Linked DNA regions of Homo sapiens. The protein of the gene in region 3 purifies or fractionates together with the protein of the main gene of each other region. This does not show direct contact. Each region holds a gene or a part of one and is shown on either strand. Other genes may lie near its edges.

The links. Proteins that work in one complex are often made in the same cells at the same time.
Region 1: the proteins of IGHMBP2 (region 3) and THAP12 purify together in Homo sapiens (affinity purification with mass spectrometry; 2 studies listed by BioGRID and IntAct, with this or other methods). This does not show direct contact.
Region 2: the proteins of IGHMBP2 (region 3) and NLE1 purify together in Homo sapiens (affinity purification with mass spectrometry; 2 studies listed by BioGRID and IntAct, with this or other methods). This does not show direct contact.

Annotation. Positions count from the first base shown.
Region 1 is NC_000011.10:76,364,109-76,371,134, forward strand, and holds part of THAP12 (52 kDa repressor of the inhibitor of the protein kinase), read right to left. Parts: intron 1,865-7,026; coding exon 1,744-1,864; intron 325-1,743; exon of another isoform or gene 230-324; intron 1-229. UniProt on the Homo sapiens protein: Upstream regulator of interferon-induced serine/threonine protein kinase R (PKR). May block the PKR-inhibitory function of DNAJC3, resulting in restoration of kinase activity and suppression of cell growth.
Region 2 is NC_000017.11:35,139,280-35,146,863, reverse strand, and holds the start of NLE1 (notchless protein homolog 1), read left to right. Parts: upstream 1-4,560; 5' UTR 4,561-4,588; coding exon 4,589-4,606; intron 4,607-4,612; exon of another isoform or gene 4,613-4,741; coding exon 4,742-4,885; intron 4,886-6,797; coding exon 6,798-7,015; exon of another isoform or gene 7,016-7,044; intron 7,045-7,549; coding exon 7,550-7,584. UniProt on the Homo sapiens protein: Plays a role in regulating Notch activity. Plays a role in regulating the expression of CDKN1A and several members of the Wnt pathway, probably via its effects on Notch activity. Required during embryogenesis for inner mass cell survival.
Region 3 is NC_000011.10:68,913,874-68,920,899, forward strand, and holds part of IGHMBP2 (DNA-binding protein SMUBP-2), read left to right. Parts: exon of another isoform or gene 1-477; intron 478-949; coding exon 950-1,150; intron 1,151-3,862; coding exon 3,863-4,010; intron 4,011-7,026. UniProt on the Homo sapiens protein: 5' to 3' helicase that unwinds RNA and DNA duplexes in an ATP-dependent reaction. Specific to 5'-phosphorylated single-stranded guanine-rich sequences. May play a role in RNA metabolism, ribosome biogenesis or initiation of translation.

The DNA of each region.
Region 1 (7,026 bases), 7.5 Mb from region 3:
ATTAAGAGACCATATTTATTACTAAAATAAAAATGCAAAAATGCATATGGCAAATGTATTTAAAATAATTTGGGATATTTTTACTTCATGTCAAGAACATAAAAGTAGTTTGCCTTTTAAACATATGAAACCTTTTATTTTGGTTGATCATTATTACCCTTTTAACAAATCAAGGCAAAAATATTCCTCAAATATTTGTGATTAAACTGTTGAACCGGAATTGGCTCACCTCCCAATGACTTCACAAGTATCTGCTTCAATTAATTTTGAGAAATAAAATAACCCAATCATTCTTTAGTTTTCTGATGCCTCTGCAAAATGTATCTGAAAAAAATATCAAAATAAATTGCTGCATAACAACATATAGTGTACCTTTGAATCAAGTTTATGTCTATCCCAATATCTGAGGTGTTACATTAGTTACACTGAAACAAGTCTGCTTCATTTCAATCAAATTTGCCTTATTTGTGCCTTTTATAAATCACAGCAAGAGAATCACAGAGGGTTAAAAATCTTAGAACTCAGGAATTACCTGGCCTAATCTCCTTATTAGGAACTGGGGCCCAAAGAGGGGAAGTGACTTGGCCAAGCTCACACAGTTAACAGTAGGTCCTGATATGAAATTACATATTATTGATGAAAATGTTTTTCCACATTACCTGGATAATTTGTTTACCATTATATCTACCACATAAAAATTAAAAGTTGGTTCTAATAGTACATACAAAAACATGAAAACAAGAGCTCCATTCCGAGATGAAAATTTTACTCATAAAAAAGCTCTAAAGAGCTCCAAATAAAAACACCAACTTTACCTTAAATAAACATATACTTTTATAATCATCTAAAATTTTCCTGAAGACTAAATAATATTTAAAAGTGGTTACCTCAGCCGGGTGTGGAGGCTCATACATGTAATCCCAGCACTTTGGGAGGCCGAGGTGGGCGGGTCACTTGAGGTCAGGAGATTGAGACTAGCCTGGCCAACATGGAGAAATCCCACCTCTACTAAAAGTACAAAAATTAGCTGGGCGTGGTGGCACAATGCCTGTAATCTCAGCTACTTGGGAGGCTGAGGAGAGAGAATCGCTTGAGCCCAGGAGGTGGGGGAGGTGGCAGAAGTTGCAGTGAGCTAAGATAGCGCCACTGCACTCCAGCCTGGGTGACAGAGCAAGACTGTCTTTAAAAAAAAAAAAAAAAAAAGTAGTTACCTTGGGTGAGTAGAAATGGGGCACCAGGAACCGAAGAGTTTTGTTTTGTTTTGTTTTGTTTTAATCATTTTGAGTTTTTTTTCCAGACAAGCGCTCACTCTGTCGCCCAGAGTGGAGTGTAGTGGCATGAACACAACTCTCTGCAGCCCCGACGTCATGGGCTCAAGTATCCTCCCATCTCAGCTTCCCAAGTAGCTGGGACTACAGGCATACGTCACCACACCTCGCTAGTTTTTTTGGTATTTTCTGTAGCGACGGCATCTGGCCATGTTGCCCAGGCTGGTCTCAAACTCCTGAGCTCAAGTGGTCTTCCTGCCTCGGCCTCCCAAAGTGCTGGGATTATAGGCCCCCGGCAAAATCAGGATTTTAAGAACAAAACAGATACTTTTCAGCTCCAAATCTGTCTTCATCTTAAAGTGGCAGGATATAGGAATACCTTCCAACATTGGTAAATACTTACATTTCCAACCAGACACAGTGAGAGAGAGAAATCAAGTCAAACAGAGAGACACCAAGCTCTTCTATTACTCACAGTTCTACAGATCATAGAGGTCTCAAAATGTTTGGCACATAATCGATAATGTTTATTTAGCTGATCAGGTGTTTTATCTTCTAAGTCTGCTCTCCTACAGTTCTCCACCCACTTCTGGCATCTATAAATAAAACCAAAATACAATTATGAAAATGAGCTCAGCATTTAAATTTCAGCCTTCAGTTTTAAGGCAAACATACATTAATAACAACGGATTCCTGCTCCCCTCCCTGAGAACATAATTTGGAGAATTTGATTAATAACAAAATAACAGTTGGAAAAAACCTTAGAAGTCATTTAGTACCAACATTTCAATTACAGACAAGGTTAAGAAGTAACTTGTTTGGAGGGAAGTACAAAATCATCAGCAGAACTAGAACTGAAACCTGCATCTTCCAACTCCCAAAACATCAGAGAAGATTCAACCATCAGCAGAACAAGCAGAAAGCTGCATGCACAGCCACAAGGCTCACAGCTTAACATTCCCTTCAGGATTTCAACTTCAACAAGCATACAAAACAACACTGTCACTGTAGAAAATCAGCAATTAGGCCGGGCGTGTTGTCACGCCTGTAATCCCAGCACTTTGGGAGGCCAAGGCAGGCAGATCAGGAGGTCAGGAGATCGAGACCATCCTGGCTAACCCGGTGAAACCCCGTCTCTACTAAAAATACAAAAAATTAGCTGGGCGAAGCGGCGAGCGCCTGTAGTCCCAGCTACTCGGGAGGCTGAGGCAGGAGAATGGCGTGAACCCGGGAGGCGGAGCTTGCAGTGAGCCGAGATTGCGCCACTGCACTCCAGCCTGGGTGACAGAGCCAGACTCCGTCTCGGAAAAAAAAAAAAAAATCAGCAACTAGATGTTCTTTAAATAACTAGTTTCTAAGGGAAGCATAAAGGCTGTATTCGTTTATCTTCCTATGAACACAAATTATTATCTACAGTAATACGTGCTGACTAGATTGCAAGCTCCATGAATGCAGGGACTGTGACTACACAATCTAGTACACAAAAAGTGTTGAAGACAGAGAACAAGACAAAGTCCATGCCCTCTCGGTGCTTAAATATTTTCAGAAAAGCTAATAATAAGCACTTATTATGAGCCAGACACGTTCTAAGTCCTTTCCAAAGATGGGTACTATTAATATCCCCCTTGTGCAGATGAAGGCACAGAAATATTAAGTAACTTGCTAAAGTCACAACTAGATCTTTCCTCAAATTTCTTTTCTTTTCTTTTTTTTTTTTGAGACAGAGTTTTGCTCTTGTTGCCCAGGTTGGAGTGCAATGCCATGATCTTGGCTCACTGCAACCTCTGCTTCCCGGGTTCAAGCGATTCTCCTGTCTCAGCCTCCCAAGTAGCTAGGATTACAGGCATGCGTTACCACGCCTGGCTAATTTTGTATTTTTAGTAGAGACTGGGTTTCTCCATGTTGGTCAGGCTGGTCTCGAACTCCCGACCTCAGGTGATCTGCCCGCCTCGGCCTCCCAAAGTGCTGGGATTACAGGCGTGAGCCACCGCGCCCGGCCCATTCCTCAAATTTCTAAGAATAAAAGTTCTGCCGTGGATAAACAGTATCACAAATTATTTTTTTGAGATGGTGTCTTGCTCTTTAGCCCAGGGTGGAGTGCAGTGGTGTGATCTCAGCTCACTGCAACCTCTGCCTCCCAGGTTCAAGCAATTCTCCTGCCTCAGCCACCCAAGGAGCTGAGATTATAGGCGTGCACCACGACACTCAGCTAAGTTTTGTATTTATAGTACAGATGGGGTTTCAGCACGTTGGCTAGCTTGGTCTCGAACTCCAGATCGCAGGTGATCTGCCCACCTTGGCCTCCCAAAGTGCTAGGATTACAGGCGCGAGCCACTGCGCCCGGCCCAACATATTCCTTTATAATTAAATCACAGTATTTTTTTTTTATGTTTTAACACTATTGTCCACCTCCCCCCAACATACATGCCCCTGACACTTAATTCTCTCTACTCTAAAAATGTCAAATCAAGGTAAAATGCTATGATTTTTAAAAAACTACACCTAAATTGTACAGCATTTCATTTGACCAACAAGTATTACTGCTCACAGTAACGATGCCTAAGATGTTCACAATTTAATCACACTTTTACACAGTTGTACATTATGATTATAAACATTTCATGTTTCAAAATCCAAATATTAAGTATAAAAACGATCTCACTATAAAATAATTTGCCATACTGCTACAGTTGTTTGTTTTTTAAATTCTTAAATCTCTGGAGACCTTCCACACAGAGCAATACTGTACATATTACCTCCGAACTAAGTTGAAACAGCTTTCTGATATCAACAGCAACTCTTATTCAGACAATCAAGAACAGAATGGGCATCAGGCAGAGAGCCTAATCAAATACACCTGACTTTCTATATGAACTACTTAAGAATAAATCTAGTGAAAGAAGTGCAAGACCTCTAATAATCTTTTTAAAGCAAACTTAAATAAATACACAAGTTTATGAACTGGCACACTAAATTCCAAAGATGTCAATTCTCCCCAAACCCATTTACTAATTCAATATAATCACAAGCCCAGTAAGTTTGTGAGAGAGAGCAAGAGAAAGAAATGACAAATTATTCTAAAACTTTTTATACACAACATTAAAGAACCAGGGATAACCAAGATAATCTTGAGAGAGAGAGAGGAAAAAGGAGGTTGAAAGAATTACACTACCAGATATTAAGACTTACTGTAAAGCTTATTAAGACAAGTACTGGCAGAAGGACAGAACAGTGAAACAAAATAGAGCACTGCAGATACTTAAAGGTAGCTCTGAACAGCAGCAAATATGGATTTTTCTTTTCCAATAAATAGGGCCGAGTCAGCTGAATATCTACATGAAAAAAATAAATCTTAACTCCTACTTGTACACCATACACAAAAATAAGTTCCAAGTGATTGGAGATCTAAATATGAAAGGTAAAACAATAAAGCCACTAAAAGATAACACAGGAGATTATCTTCATGACCTTGGAATAAAGATCTCTTAAGGCAACAGCACAAATGCTAGAGGAAAAGATATATAAATTAGGCTACTTTAAAGTTAATAACTTTTCTTCATTAAAAGAAGCCATTTAAGAGTGAAATGGCAGACCACAAAATGTCAGATATTTGCAATACATATATCTAACAATGGACTCACATTCAAAATATATATGAAGAACTCCTACAAATAAATAACCCAACATAAAAATAGGCAAGGGGCCTTGAACAGGCACTTTATAATAAAAAGGTTATAAAAATGGCAATACATAGATGAAAAAAAAATGCTCGATCTCATTTGCCATCAGGGAAATGCTAATTAAAGCCAAAACAAATTACTACATACCCACAAGAATGACTACAATGTAAAAGAGGTAATACCAAATATTGGGGAGAAGGTGAAGTAACTTTGCCCATCAACAGCAGGATGGATAAATTGTGGTATATTCATTCAATGGAATACTACTTGGCTATGAAATGAACAAACTATCTACAATCTCACAAACGTAATGTTAAGCAGAAGAAGCCAGGAGTACATACTACATGATTCCTTTGATATGAAATTCTAGAACAGGCAAAACTCATTCATAGTGATTGTTCAGAAAAAGAGTTAACACAGCAGACCTCAGGCTGCTGTCCTTAGAAAGGCCTGTTTGTTAAGGACCTTGGGCTGGTATCCGGGAACTTGGTTGGTAAACAGTTCCATACACAGAAATAAAATTTTTCCTAACTGATAATGCAGCTCAATGTGCCTAGACTGCTTGTGCAAACAAGCACACCTGCTGAACACCTGCCATCCCTTCTGGGAATTTGGAATTTTATTATATGCCAGGCAGAGGCTGCCTATGTGATCAGGACCCAGTAAAAACCTCGGACACTACGTCTCTAACGGTCTTCTCTCCACAGAAACACGGCACGTGTTGCCACATTTCCACCACTGGGGAAAAACGGGCTCTGGGTGACCCCCTCATGGGAAAGACGGAGCATAGGGAAGCCTATACATGGATTCCTTCAGACTGTGCCTGTCTTTTTCCCTCATGATCCAGATGTGTATCCTTACTACAATGCAATAAATCTTCACTGTGAGTACAACCATATACTGAGTCCTGCAAGCCCTTCTAGTGAATCTTTAAATATGGGGTGGTCTGGCTCCGCCTCAACACAGTGATGGAATAGCAGATACATTTGGGGAGGGTAACAACTGGGAGTGGGCACAAAAGAGGCTACTGAGGTGCTGCTAATGTTCTATATCTCAAACAATAATAAAGCTTCCATTCATTCTCCCTCTTCCCCCCAAAACCTAACTAATCCAAGGTATGTGAAGTCACAGTGGCTACCACTGGGGAGAATGGGATAATGGCTGGGAGAACCATGAAGCAGAGGAAGTTTGGGACGCTAGTGATACTCTATTTTTTAAAAATCCCGGTGAAATTTTCATGGATATGTTACTCTGAAAATCCAACATGATGTACAGTTATCATTTGTGATCTTCTGTGCATATGTTTTTTGGGGTTTTTTTTTGAGAGAGAGGATCTCACTCTGTTGCACAGGCTGGAGTGCAGTGGTGCAATCTCGGCTCACTGCAGCCTCCATCTCCTGGGTTCAAGCGATTCTCCCACCTCAGTCTCCCATGTAGCTGGGACTACAGGCACACGCCACCATGCCTGGCTAACTTTTTGTATTTTTTGTAGAGACGGGGTTTCACCATGTTCCCCAGGTTAGTCTGAAACGCCTGGGTGAAGTGATCGTCCTGCCTCGGCCTCCCAAGGTGCTAGGATTACAGGCATGAGCCACCGCACGTAGCTCTTCTATGTATACGTTTTTACATGAATAAAATTATAAAAATTATATATGACCGGGAGGCTGAGGTAGGAGAATCACTTGAATCCGGGAGGTGGAGGTTGCAGTAGGCCAAGATCGCACCACTGCACTCCAGCCTGGCAAGAGAGCGAGACTCCGTCTCAAAAAAAAAGAAAAAAAAAAAAAATATATATATATATGACCACAATAAGTGTTTTCACATGTGTATTCATATGTGTATTATGAATATGTATATATATTTATATACATACATACCCACTTACATACTCGTCTCAAATTTTTACCAATGCCTCCCCTTTCCCAGCTCTCCCTGTCATTGTTCTGTTCCCTGTACTCCAGATTTTGTAGACTTTTCCCTTAGCACAGTGGAATGACTCCCCAAATCCATCTGCTTCTCTCCATCAATAACACCCTGGTCCAAGCTACCATAATTTTTTACCTGGTCTACTAGTATCT
Region 2 (7,584 bases), on a different chromosome or scaffold from region 3:
CGTTGTCCCCAGTTGGACCCAGAACTCTTCTGCATTTCAGTGCCCTCAAGCCTGGGCTGTGAGCTTCCTCCTGGAAGGCAAAGACAGCATCCCATATAGCTTGTCCCCCAACCCCCTTCCTGCACAGGTTCTGGCACATTCAGTGTCCGAAGTGTGTTTCCTGAATGGAATGAATGGATGGATGAATGAATGAATGAATGAATGGTGTCTTCATGATGATGATTTCCTCCACTCACCTCTCATCCCTCTCCCCTCCACCCCACACATATCTTCAAACTTATCTGGCCAGAGCTGAGAAAGACACTGAAGAAAATCCCAGGTGGAATCATTCATACTAGATTCTACTCGCAGACCTGTGACCTTGGACACACAGCTATATGACCTTGGACAAGTTGTAGCGCCCTGCTGGACACAAAGCCCAGCCCTAACACATGTTTGTTGAATGAGCAAATAAATGAATGAATAGATGGATGAATTCCCTGCCTTCATGTTATCACAAGCCCTGGGCCCTTTTGTGGGGCAAGCTCTCTGCAGCAATGAGGTAATAGGATAAAGGATCCTGACATTGGCAGAGACCTGCGGTTCTGTGACTTTAGGTCCAAGGGATCTTATATTCAAATGCTGATTCAGTAATTCATTCCACAAGCATTTCTTAAACATCTTTTTGTTGTTGTTGTTGTTGTTGTTTGAGACAGAGTCTTGCTCTGTTGCCCAGGCTGGAGTGCAGTGGCACGATCTCGGCTCACTGCAACCTCCACCTTCTGGGTTCAAGAGATTCTCCTGCCTCAGCCTCATGAGTAGCTGGGATTACAGACATCCACCACCATGCCTGGCTAATTTCTGTATTTTTAGTAGAGATGGAGTTTCACCATGTTGGCCAGGCTGATCTTGAACCCCTGACCTCGTGATCCACCTGCCTAGGCCTCTCAAAGTGCTGGGATTACAGGCGTGAGCCACCGCGCCTGGCCCACATTTCTTAAACATTTATTATGTGTGAGGAACTGTGAAGCATAGAACACTGGTGAGGACAAGGATTTGTGTCTATGTTGTTCCCTCACATATTCCAAGCGTTTGTAATGGTGTGGGGCACAGTGGCTGACACCTGTAATCCCAGCACTTTGGGAGGCCAAGGCAGGCGGATCACCTGAGGTCAGGAGTTCCAGACCAGCCTGGCCAACATGGCGAAACTCCATCTCTGCTAAAAACACAAAAGTTAGCCGGGCATGGTGGCGGGTGCCTGTAATCCCAGCTACTAAGGAGTCTGAGGCAGGAGAATCACTTGAACCCCAGAGGCAGAGGTTGCAGTGAGCCAAGATCATGCCACTGCACTCCAGCTTTGGTGACAGAGCAAGATTCCATCTCAAAAAAGAAGAAAAAATAAAAAGAAGGTGCTCAATGCTATTTGTTGAATGAATGAATGAATGAAATAATTCCATGGATCTGTGATTCTGTGATTTCTTTTTTTTGTTCGTTTGTTTGTTTTGGTTTTTTTTTTAATTGAGACAGGGTCTCGCTGTCACAAGTGGAAAGCAGTGGCATGATCACGGCTGACTGCAGCCTTGACCTCCCAGGTTCAAGCAATTCACCCATCTCAGCCTCCTGAGTAGCTGGGACTATAGGTGCATGCCACCTGGCTATTTTTTTTGTAGAGACATGATCTCACCATGTTGCCCAGTCTGGTCTCAAACTCCTGGGCTCAAGTGATACTCCCACCTCGGCCTCCCAAAGTGCTGAGATTACAGGTGTGAGCCACTGTGCCAGCTGGATCTGTGATTTCTAAATGTGAGGAATACCAGGATGTTTTGAAAACATACAACAGGGAAATATGACATCATATGACATCATTTCAAAGGTTTCCCTGCGTAAGTGATAAATGAGTTGATACACATAGAACTCCGACAACGTCTGGCAGAGAGTAGGCACTCAATACATTTATTGGATGAATGAATAAATATTCAAGGCAAGACCTGAAGAATGAGGAACTATTCCTGTATTAGTTGGCTCTGGCTACCATAACAAAATAGCACAGACAGGGAGGCTTCAACAACAGAAATTTATTTTCTCACAGCTCTGGAGTAGAGAAATCCAAGGTCAAGGTGCCATGAGGGTTGGTTTCTGGTGAGGCCTCTCTTCCTGGATGCAAACAGCCACCTTCTCACTGTGTCCTACTATGGCCTCATCTTTGTGTGTGCTCAGGGAGGCAGTGCGGGGGGCGGGGAGAGACAGAGAGAGAGTACTCTGGAGTCTCCTCATTTCACAAGGGCACCAGTTCTATCTGATTAGTGTCCTACCCATACAAACTCACTTATTAACCCTTCCTATGTCCTTTCAGGGCCCATCTCCAGGCCAGGCATGGTGGCTTACACCTGTAATCCCAGCACTTTGGAAGGCCTAAGACAGGAAGATCATTTGAGGCCAAGAGTTCGAGACCAGCTTAGGCAACAGAGTGACAGCCTTGTCTCTACAAAAATTTTTAAAAGTTAGCCGAGTGTCAGGTATAGTGGCACACACCTGTTGTCCTAGCTACTCAGAACACTAAGGTAAGAAGAGCACTTGAGCCTGGGAGTTTGAAGCTGTGTGAGCTATGATCACACTACTACACTCTAGTCTGGGCAACAGAGTGAGACCCTGTCTCTAAAAAAAAAAAAAAAAAACAATAATAATAATATATGCTATCTCCAAATACAGCCACATTCAGAGCTAGGGCTTCAATATATAAATTAGGGCAGAGGCGTCCAATCTTTTGGCTTCTCTGGGCCACAGTGGAAAAAGAATTGCCTTGGGCTACACATAAAATACACTAATGATAGCTGATGAGCTGAAAAAAAAAATCGAAAGAAAATCTCATAATGTTTTAAGAAAGCTTACGAATTTGTGTTGGGCTGCATTCAAAGCCATCCTGGGCTGCATGCAGCCTGTGGCCCAGGGGTTGGACAAGCTTGAATTAGGGGAAGGGCACAATTCACTCCATAACAGTTCCAGACAGAAAAAACTGCATGGGCAAAATCACTGATGCAGGAAGAGCCATGCCTTGTAAGAACTCAGAAAAAGCCAGCAAGATTTAACCTAAAGAGAGGGGTGGCTGGACATAGCAAGGCTGAATTGACCATTATAAGGAGTGTTCTTTTTTTCCTGCATGTAAGGGAGCCGTCGCAGGGTTTGAGGGTGAAGAGCAGCAGGCCAGATTTTTGGTCTGAAAAGATAACCCTGGCTGCATCGTGGAGAATGGGTAGAAAGAGGCAGGAATGGAAATGGGGGGGCTCATCGGGAGGCTGTTGTAGCGGTCCAGGCAGGTGATGATGGTGACTCTGACCAGAGTGAGGCAGTGGAGATGGGGAGAGCAGATTCAAGCTGTGTTCATGAGGATGACTTGGCAGAGCTTGAGACTGCCTGAGCAGTGGAGGGAGAGAGAGGAGAGTTGGCAAGGGAGATCCTTCGTTTCAGGCAAAAGAGCTCAAGTTCATTGCTGTCTGCTTCAGTTCCTCAGTAATATGGGGAGAAAAGGGTTGTAAGAATTAAATGAGTTATGTGGGAAAGCACTTAGAACAATTCCTGACTTGTTGATGTCATTATCACTATTATTGCTTTACAGCATTGATGATTGTAGAAATGATTTGCTTTTGTACTCGAGTATTATTGAGTTGATCCATTTTATTTATTTATTTATTTATTTATTTATTTATTTATTTATTTATTTATTGAGACAGAGTCTTGCTCTGTCATCCAGGCTGGAGTGCAGTGGTGAGAGCTCGGCTCACTGCAACCTCTGCCTCCCAGGTTCAAGAGAATCTACCACCTCAGCCTCTCCAGTAGCTATGACCACAGGCGCATGCCACCACGGCTGGTTAATTTTTTTGTATTTTTAGTAGAGACCTGGTTTCACCATGTTGGCCAGGCTGGTCTCGAACTCCTGGACTCAAGTGATCTGCTCGCCTGGGCCTTCCAAAGCGCTGGGATTACAGGTGTCAGCCACCACGCCCAGCCTTGACTTGATCCATTTTTAAAAGGATACTAATTTCTAGGCTAGGCGTGGTGGCTCACACCTGTAATCCCAGCACTTTGGGACACTGAGGCTGGGGAGTGGGGGACTTGCTGCTTGAGTTCAGGAGTTTGAGACCAGCCTGGGCAACATAGTGAGACCTCGTCTCTACAAAAAATGAGAAAAAAATAACCGGGCAGGGTGTCATGTGCCTGTAGTCCAGGCTACTCTGAGGCTGAGGTGGGAGGATCGCTGTGCCAGAAAGTTCGAGACTGCAGTGAGCCGTGGTGGCACCACTGCCCTCCAGTCTGGGCGACGGAGTGAAACTCTGTCTCAAAATGAAATTAAATTAAAATGGGGCAAGAATCCCTGTTGTGAAGAGTCAAAAGTTTACTGTGTCCTCTAAGACCCTGGCGAAAAATAAATGTGAAGGCTGTTGAGGGGCGGGAGGAGCACCAGGTAAGCCCATTTCTAATCCCTGAGGCCGTGCGCAGCGGGACGCTTCTCCTCCCCAACAGCAGAGGGCGATGTGGCCGGCGGCGACCCCGCCCGACCACGGAGACGGCGCTCTGTCTGCCGGGCTCTTTCTCCTCCACGTGGGGACGCAGGATGGCGGCAGCAGTGCCGGTGGGTGTGCGTGGATGGGGGCGGGGGGCGTCGCCGCGGGGCGCTAGGGCCCGGGTCCCTGAGGCCTGAGAGAGGCGAAGTGGGGCCCTTCTGGGCGGGCGACCAGACTGACTCCCGCCCCACTTGCTCGCGCAGGACGAGGCGGTGGCGCGCGATGTGCAGCGGTTGCTAGTGCAGTTCCAGGATGAGGGCGGGCAGCTGCTGGGTTCCCCGTTCGACGTGCCCGTGGACATCACCCCGGACAGGCTGCAGCTCGTGTGCAACGCGCTACTGGCCCAGGTAAGTGGCTGGCCAGGGCGGCCTCGCATCTCCACCCCCGGGCGGATGCGGTGGGGGAATCATATTACCGAGGGTCTGCGGTTCATGGTCCCCCGCTAACGGACTGTGGTGACCCACCTGGCGTGAGCTCCCACCTATGTCAGAGATGGAATCAGTGGCATAGCGCTTTACACGCCAACCAAAGGGGTCCACCTGCGGAGAGGGGCCTAGCTTTGAACGCACCGGATGCTGTATTTCATTGATTCTTTGTCACAGTCCCCCAGTCTGGGACACGTTAATATCCCCATTTTACAGCGTGGCCCGGAGGGACTCAGTATTTTGCACGATGCTATGTAGTAGGTAGCAGATTTGGAATTGGAACCCAAAACTATCCGAATACCCATGCTTTTATTTATTTATTTATTTACCTTTTTTTTTTTTTTTTTTGAGACGGAGTCTCACTTTGTCGCCAGGCTGGCAAGCTGGAGTGTAGTGGCGTGATCTCTGCTCACTGCAATCTCTGCCTCCCAGGTTCAAGCGATTCTCCTGCCTCAGCCTCCCGAGTAGCTGGGACTACAGGCGCGCGCCACCACACCCAGCTAATTTTTGTATTTTTAGTGGGGACTGGGTTTCACCACGTTGGCCAGGATGGTCTCGATCTCTTGACCTCGTGATCCTCCCGCCTTGGCCTCCAAAGTGCTGGGGATTACTGGCGTGAGCCACCGCACCCGGCCTTTGCTTTTAACCTTTAAGCCAGTGTGTTTACTGAAGAGCTGCCCTGGGGACAGGGGAGGTCCTTAAAATTGCAGTTCCTGGACCCCATCCCAGCCTTACTAAACCAAACTCTGGGATGAAGCAGAAAGTCTACATTTTTTAACAGGCGTTTTGGGAGCTTTTTACACAAATATAGTGTAGTGTGGTAGTTTGGGAAACACTGCATAATGCTATATGCTAATCCTATCTTGGACGTAAAGAACCTGAATTAATCATTGGCAATAGGACATTGAACTAATTACTTAGTTGTTCTGAGCCTCTGCTTTTGAAAACTGTCAGTGGGAATATTAGTATCTACTTCCCACGGTTGTTATGAGATGCAGATAAAGAATTTCAGGCCGGGTGCAGTGGCTTATGCCTGTAATCCCAGTACTTTGGGAGGCTGAGGTGGGCAGATCACTAGAGGTCAGGAGTTCGAGACCAGCTTAGCCAATATGGCGAAAACAGTCTCTACTGAAAATACAAAAATTAGCCAGGCGTGGTGGCAGGCGCCTGTAGTCCCAGCTCCTCGGGAGGCTGAAGCAGGAGAATTGCTTGAACCCAGGAGGCAGAGGTTGCAGTGAGCTGAGATCTCACCACTGCACTCCAGCCTGAGTAACAGAACGAGACTCCATCTCAAAAAAAAAAGAAAAAAGAATTTCCAAGTGCTGTGTAAGTGTCCTGCAACTGCTGTTCAGTGACTTAAAAGGTCTTGCTAGGCTGGGCACAGTGGCTCACGCCTGTAATCCCAGCACTTTGGGAGGCCGAGGCAGGTGGATCACCTGAGGTCAGGAGCTTGAGACCAGCCTGGCCAATGTGGCGAAACCCCGTATCTACTAAAAATATAAAACTTAGCCAGGCGTGGTGATGGGTGCCTGTAATCCCAGCTACTCGGGAGGCTGAGGCAGGAGAATCTCTTGAACCCAGGACGCGGAGGTTGCAGTGAGCAGAGATTGCTCCACTGCACTCCAGCCTGGGTGACAGAGCGAGACTCTTGTCTCAAAAATAAATAAATAAATAAATAAAAGGTCTTGCTCAATGGGCAATGATGGGGGTATCCCTAGCACGATGGCTGAAAAGAAGAAGCTTCACCTCCCACAGCTCAGTGGGGAGCATCCCTGGCAGAGGGTGCCCCTGCACATCCATTGTTGCGGGTTTGTCCTTTACCATTGTCCTTCAGGAGGATCCCCTGCCACTGGCTTTCTTTGTCCACGATGCTGAGATCGTCTCCTCACTGGGGAAGACGTTGGAGTCCCAGGCAGTGGAGACAGAGAAGGTCCTAGACATCATCTACCAGCCACAGGCTATCTTCAGAGTCCGGGCTGTGACTCGCTGCACCAGCTCCTTGGAGGGTCACAGTGAGGCAGTCATTTCTGTGGCCTTCAGCCCTACGGGAAAGTAAGGACAGCTGCAGACTCATGGAGGGGGTATGTGGGGGTGCAGTCTTTGCCTGGTTTGGGGAGGGTCTCCCAGAGTTATAATTGATGGGGCCTCAGGGCTGCCTACCATAGACCCAAGCTCTGGACTCAGCTTGCAATTAAGGGACTTCCTCAGTAGGGCATGGTCCCCAAAGGCTGCTTAAGGACCCCTGCCTTGGACAAACCTCTCCTAGACTTGATTTTTCAAGATCTGAGCTGTGTGACTTGTATAAATCACTTAACCTTTCCGAGTTAATTTTTCATCTGTGAAACTGGGATTAGTTGCTTCTCTCAAACTTAGAAAGGTAATGAGAAGCTTCAAAAGCTGGTTATAGCTGTGGAGAGGAAAGAAATGGCCTCCTGATGTATTCTCCCAGAGGACAGCATCAGTATTGTCTTTCTCCCTTCCAGGGGCGAGGAAAGAGTCCAGTTCCATATTCTATTCACAGAAAGTGATTGAATAGGTGGCACAAATGCACATGTGCAGTGTCAAGCATCCTCTCTTCTTCCCCAGGTACCTGGCCAGTGGCTCTGGAGACACCACCGTGC
Region 3 (7,026 bases):
CTAGGTCTTGCTGCTCGCCACACAGAAAGCCAGTTACTGAGGACAAGTATTGCCAAGGAAGAGGCTTTATAATCAGATGGTGCAGCCGAGGAGATGAGAGCTCATCCTCAAACCCATCTCCCTGACTAAAACTAGGGGTTTATATAACAGGGAAGAAATGTAGCAATGTGTAAAAAACAGGAACTAGGGAGGGCAAGGAGGCACCTGTAGTGGTCTGGTGATTTTCAGATCTTTGATATTTTTTTGAGAGGCCTCAATGTCCTTTTCTGAGGAAGAAACTCACATAAATAAGTTTGAAGCTTTAACAGCAGATGGTCAATTTCTCTTTATCCAAAAACAACTGTCCATGGGACTATTGAGCCGGTTTCTCCATGATCCTGCCACTGCGCTCCAGCCTGGGCCATAGAGCAATTTGTTTCAAAAAAAAAAAAGAAAGAAAGAAAAATATAGTGGAGCTACAGTGTTCGGGAGACAACTGTGAGTCCATTTGAAACGGGAAGGGTTCCCTTGTCCCCCTCGCAGGGCGTGGGATGGGGGAGTGGCTCGCTTCTTCAGTGTCCTGCTGCTCAGACCTGCAGGGGAGCATACAGATGGGCAGGCTGTGGGCTCTGACCTCATGGCAGTGTCTAGGGGTGAATGTTTACAGCTCTGTGAGTTACAGGGTGCTCTCTTAGTTTGCCGTCTATAGGTGGCTTATGTTAACCAACTCAATTAGATCCCCTTCCTTGTCACAAGGACAGAGGGCTTTCTGTATCCTGGGTTCTTGCCTTGGGGTACCGGAAGAATCGGATCACACGTGGGCTTGGAAAATGAATGCAAGATTTGATTGAGAGCACGTGTGTACATGCCTTGTGCTTCTTTCTACCTTTAAGGCTTTTTGTTGTTTTAGTGTCAACTTCAGTGGTTTGATTACAAAGTAAATGACCAGATCCTAACTTGCGGTTCCCAGGTTCTGTGCTGCGCCCCCTCCAACATCGCCGTGGACAATCTGGTGGAGCGCCTGGCTCTGTGTAAGCAGCGGATTCTGCGCCTGGGACACCCTGCCCGCCTCCTGGAGTCCATTCAGCAGCACTCCCTGGATGCGGTTTTAGCGCGGAGCGACAGTGCCCAGATTGTTGCAGATATCAGGAAGGACATCGACCAGGTCTTTGTAGGTGTCATGGCCAGTGTCCATGTGGGGCGTGGGCTTCTGATCTGCAGTCTTTTTAAGGAGCAAATTTATCTGTCTGCATTCCTCTTGACCTTCTCTTGCTTCTGTCGATTCCTTTAATAATTTTAAAAATTGGGCTGCCCTTTTTTTTTTTTTTTTTTTTTTTTTTTTTTGTGACAGAGTTTTGCTCTCATTGCTCAGGCTGGAGTGCAGTGGTGCAATCTCGGCTCACTGCAACCTCTGCCTCCTGGGTTCAAGCGATTCTCCTGCCTCAGCCTCCCTAGTAGCTGGGACTGCAGGTGCGTGTCACCACGCCTGGCTAATTTTTCTATTTTTAGTTGAGACAGGGTTTCATCATACTGGTCAGGCTGGTCTTGAATTCCTGACCTCAGGTGCTCTGCCCGCCTCGGCCTCTCAAAGTGCTGGGATTACAGGCGTGAGCCACCATGCCTGGCCTTTGTTTTTGTTTTTTTTTTTGAGATGGAGTCTCGCTCTGTCACCCAGGCCGGAGTGTAGTGCTGCTGTCTTGGCTCACTGCAGGCTCCGCCTCCCGGGGTCAAGTGATTCTTGTGCCTCACCCTCCCAAGTAGCTAGGACTACAGGCATGTGCCACCACACCCAACCAATTTTTTTATTTTTAGTAGAGACGGGGGTTTCGCCATGTGGGCCAGGCTGGTCTCGAACTCCTAACCTCAAGTGATCCACCCGCCTCAGCCTCCCAAAGTGCTGGATTACAGGTGTGAGCTACTGTACCCAGCCAGGGCTGCCCATTTTTGATAGAGAACTATACTTAGCATTTAACAGAGTCTCAACTGTCTTCAGAGCACTTGGTTAGTAGGTGTGAGGAATTGTAAAGAAAACATTTTCCGGCCGGATACAGTGGCTCACACGTGCAATCCCAGCACTTTGGGAGGCCGAGGTGGGCGGAACAGTTGAGGTCAGGAGTTCGAGACCAGCCTGGCCCACATGGTGAAACCCCGTCTCTACTAAAAATACAAAAATTAGCTGAGCATGGTGGCGGGCACCTGTATTCCCAGCCACTTGGGAGGCTGAGGCAGGAGAATCTCTTGAACCTGGGAGGTGGAGGTTGCAGTGAGCCATGGTCACTCCACTGCACTCCAGCCTCGGTGACAAAGCAAGACTCCGTCTCAAAAAAAAAACCAAACATTTTCCTGGGTGTCTTTCTGTCTGGTCCTGTTGTCTTGCTAGTAGTGGCAATGGGAGAAAAGTAGCCTGAACATAAACATTGAAAAAATTGGCATCCTCCTAGAGCTTTCCGTCCATTCCACCTTCTCCTTGTGAAAGAGGACACCAGTCGGCTGGAGAAGTAGGGTGGTGGTAGGTTTCTTCCATTTGAGAGGGCCTTTTCCCCCCAGCCCGACACTCCGACACTTTTGAGCTCTTTGGTTCTCCCGTGGACGCTTTGTTGTAGTGTCTGTGCTCACGTCCTGTCCTGTGTGCTCACTGTCGGTACTGGTACTCCTTGGTGTCTTAGTCTCAGAGGAGTGATGGCAGCAGGGAGGGTGCTGGAGCCAGTCTTTGCTCTAATGTCTGTGCTCACATCTTGTCCTGTGTGCTTACGGTCAGCACCTGCACCCTCGGTGTCCTAACCTCGGAGGAGTGGCGGCAGCAGAGAGGGTGCTGGGAGCCAGTCTTTGCTATGGGCCCGTGGCATCGAGGCTGCTTGCGTGGCTGCTTGCATGGCAGCGTGGGGATGGGCCGCCTGCTGGGAGGGGGAGGAAGGATAGATGCATGTCATGCAGGTTCGAGGTGGTGGAGGAATATGCATGATGTTTGCTCATCACAAATGTGGGTGATTTCATTTCCTGTTGAAATTGGTGCTTTTGAGGATTTTCTTTCTCTGTAAATTATACACAGTAAAATACCTCCTGTCACCCCTGCTAAAACTCCATCCCCCAAAGTAGAAATCACAAATAAGGAAAGGTTACATCTTTTTTTTTTTTTTTTTTTTTTTTTTAAAGAATCTTGCTCTGTCGCCCAGGCTGGAGTGCAGTGGTGCAATCTCGGCTCACTGCAACCTCCGCCTCCTGGGTTCAAGCAATTCTCCTGCCTCAGCCTCCCGAGTAGCTGGGATTACAGGCACACACCATGCCCAGCTAATTTTTTGTATTTTTAGTAGAGACAGCGTTTCACTGTGTTGGCCAGGCTGGTCTCGATTTCCTGAGCTCGTGATCTGCCTGCCTCGGGCTCCCAAAGTGCTGGGATTACAGGCATGAGCCACCGCGCCTGACCAGTTCCATCTTTTTGAGATATTAAAGTAAGTTGAGGTTTTGATTATGGGTTGAAAAAATTTTTTTTAATCTCTTGAAAAATGTAGAATAATATGTGAAGCTCAGTCTCTCTATTCGTAAGCTCCTACAACCCAAATCCTGGGGCGGGCAAGCGCTTTTTCTTCCCCAAGATCAAATGCCTGTGTGCAGGGCAGGGCTGGTCCAATTTCTGGTCTCCTCTGAGTTAAAAACGTGGTCTCTTTCCAGGACTTAAAATGTCTCTTCCTGTGACTTCAAGGCAAGTGAGGATGTAAGGTGCTTAGTTGCGTGTGTGTATCTGTGTCTCTTTCAAGGAAGATTTCTGAGTGTTTTTTACGGAGTTTATTGAACTGGACTGAATGATAGAAGCACTTCATAAATAGAGTTGAAGAAGTACAAAGTTGGACTGAAGTAAGTGTATCTCCTTTGTTTTTCTTTATAGGTGAAAAACAAAAAGACCCAGGATAAGAGAGAGAAAAGTAATTTTCGAAATGAAATTAAGCTGTTAAGAAAAGAACTGAAGGAGAGGGAAGAAGCAGCTATGCTCGAGAGCCTCACTTCGGCAAACGTGGTCCTTGCAACAAACACAGGTGAGGGGGCGTCTCCATCCTGCCTGTGTGGCCTCGAAGAAGGAGTTGGGGTGTGTTCCCTCTTCTGTTTTCTGGAAGAGTTTGTTTAGAATTGGTATTTCTTTCTTAAAAGTTGGGTAGGGTTCACTAGGGAAGGCCTCCGTACCTGCAGTTTTCTTCATGGAGAGGTTTTGAACTACAAATTCAACTTCTTCAATAGATAAAGGGCTGTTCAGGTTGTTTTTCTTCCATGAGCTTGTAGCTTTCAAGAAGTTTGTCCATTTTATCTAAACGGTTGAATTTAGAGGCATGAAGTGGTTCCTAATATGCCCTTATTCTTCTTTTACTGTCTGCAGGATCTGTCATGATATAACCTGTATTATTCCTGATACTGGTTTGTGTGCTCTTTTTTTTCCTGCTCTTCTGGCTGGAGGGTTTTTTTTTTTAAATTTAGATTTTATATATACATACATATATATTTTAAGAGACAGGGTCTCTGCCAGGCGCAGTGGCTCACACCTGTAATCCCAGCATTTTGGGATGCCAATGCGGGTGGATCACCTGAGGTCAGGAGTTTGAGACCTGCCTAGCCAACATGGTGAAACCCCATCTCTACTAAAAATACAAAAATTAGCCAGGAGTTGTGGTATGCACCTGTAATTCCAGCTACTTGGGAGGCTGAGGTAGGAGAATTGCTTGAATCCTGGAGGTGGAGGTTGCAGTGAACCAAGATCGCGCCACTGCACTCCAGCCTGGGTGACAGAGCAAGACTCCGCCTCAAAAAAATAAAAACCCCAAAACCAAAAAAACAAAGCAAAACAAAAAAAGAGACAGGGTCTCACTATGTTGCCCAGGCTGGTCTCAAACTCCTGGGCTCAAGGGATCCCCCTGCCTCAGCCTCCTAAAGTGCTAGGATTACAGGTGGACCCACCGCGCCCGGCCTGGCTGCAGGTTTCAATTGATCTTCCCAAAGAACCAGCTTTTGCTTTTTCTCTATTGTTTTTCTGTTTCATGTATTTCCACATTGATCTTTATCGTTTTCTGTTTTCTTGGGCTTGTTCTTTTTCTTGCTTCTTAATGTAGAAGCTGAGATCATTGATTTGAGACCTTTCTTTTTTTCTGATACGAGCATTTAGCTCCATAAATGTCTCCCTAAGTACTGCTTTTGTGGCATCCCACAAATTCTGATCTGTTATATTTCATTCATTTCAAAATGCTATCTCATTTGCCTTTTGGTTTTTTAGAAGTGTTATATAGTTTCTAGATAGTTGGGAAATGTCCAGATATCTTTCTGTTGTTGATCTCTCCTCTCCTCTCCCCTCCCCTCCCCGTCCCCGTCCCCGTCCTGTGTGGGATCTCACTGTGTTGCTCCTCTCCTCTCCTCTCCTCTCTTCTTCTCTCCTCTCCTCATCCCTGTCCCCATCCCCATCCCCGTCGCCTTCCCTATCCCCATCCCCATATGGGATCTCACTATGTTGCCCAGGCTGGACTCAAACTCCTGGGCTCAGGTGATTCTCCCAGCTCAGCCTCCTGAGGAGCTGGGGCTCCCTGCATGTGCCACTGCACCTGGCTTACTTTCTGTTATTGGTTTCTAATTTAGTTCCATGTGGTCAGAGGACATACTCTCATGACTTGGATAGTTCATCGAGACTTACTTTATGGTCCAGAATCTGGTCTCTGTCTTTGTGAGTGTTCCATGCACACTTGATAGAACGTGTGTTCTGATTTTATTGAGTGTTCTGTAAGTAGTCAGATCATGATGGTTGATGATGTGGTTCAAGTCTGCTGTATTGAGAGAGGGACGTTGAAATCTCTGAATATAACTGGACATGTCTGTTTTTCCTGCAGTTCTATTGGTTTTTGCTTCATATCTTTGGAAACTCTTTTACTGGGGTCATAAATGTGGGGCTATGTTTTCTTGATTAATTAACAAATTTATCATTATGAAATGACCTTCTTTATCCCTGATAATATTCTTTTTTTGAAATCTACTTTGTCTGACATTAAAATAATCATTTCAGCATTTCAGCTTGCTTTTCTTTTCATTATGGTCAAAAACCTGTAAAATTTACCATCGTAACCCTTTTTAAGTCTGTAGTACAGTAGCATTAATTGTATGCATGTTGTTGTACAGCAGATCTCTAGAACATTTTCATCTTGCAGACCTGAAGCTCTGGATCTGTTGAACAGCAATTCCCTTTTTCCCTGTCCCAGATCCTGGCAGTCACCATTCTCCTGTCTGTTTCTAAGAATTTTATTATTTTACATACCTCAAGTAAGTGGAACCATGCAGGATTTGTCGTCTTGTGACTGGCTTGTTTTATTTAGTGTAATGCCCTCATGGTTCATCCATGTTGTCCAGCTTTCTTTTTATTTTTAAGAGACAGGGTCCCAATCTGTCACCTAGGCTGGAGTACAGTGGTGCGGTCAAAGCTGTACTCCAGCCTTAACCATGAATGTGGGACCTCCAGCAATCCTCCCACATTGACCTCCTGAGTTGCTGGGATTAACAGGCGTGAGCCATTGCACCCAGCCCCCACCTTTCTTTCAACTAGTGTTAGTGTGATCTATCTTTATCCTTTTTCTTAGAACCTATTTGTGTCTTTATGTTTAAAGTGATCTTTTAAAAAATATTTGAGACACGGTCTCACTGTGTTACCCCTAACTGGAGTTGCAGTGGTGCAATCATGGCTCCCTGCAGCCTCAACCTCCTGGGCTGAAGTGATTCTCCCACCTCAGCCTCCTGAGTAGCTGGGACAACAGACACGTGCTATCACACCCTGCTCATTTTTTTGATTTTTAATAGAGACAAGATCTCACTGTGTTGCCCAGGCTGGTCTGGAGTTCCTGGACTCAAGTAGTCCTTCCACCTCTGCCTCCCACAGTGCTAGGATTACAAGTGTAAGCCACTGTGCCTGGCCTGTTTATTTCTTTTTAAAGAGAGAGTCTTGCTCTGTTGCTCAGACTGGAGTGCAGAGGCGTGATCATAACTTGCTGTAGCCTTGCATTCTTTGGCTCAAGTAATCCTCCCACCTCA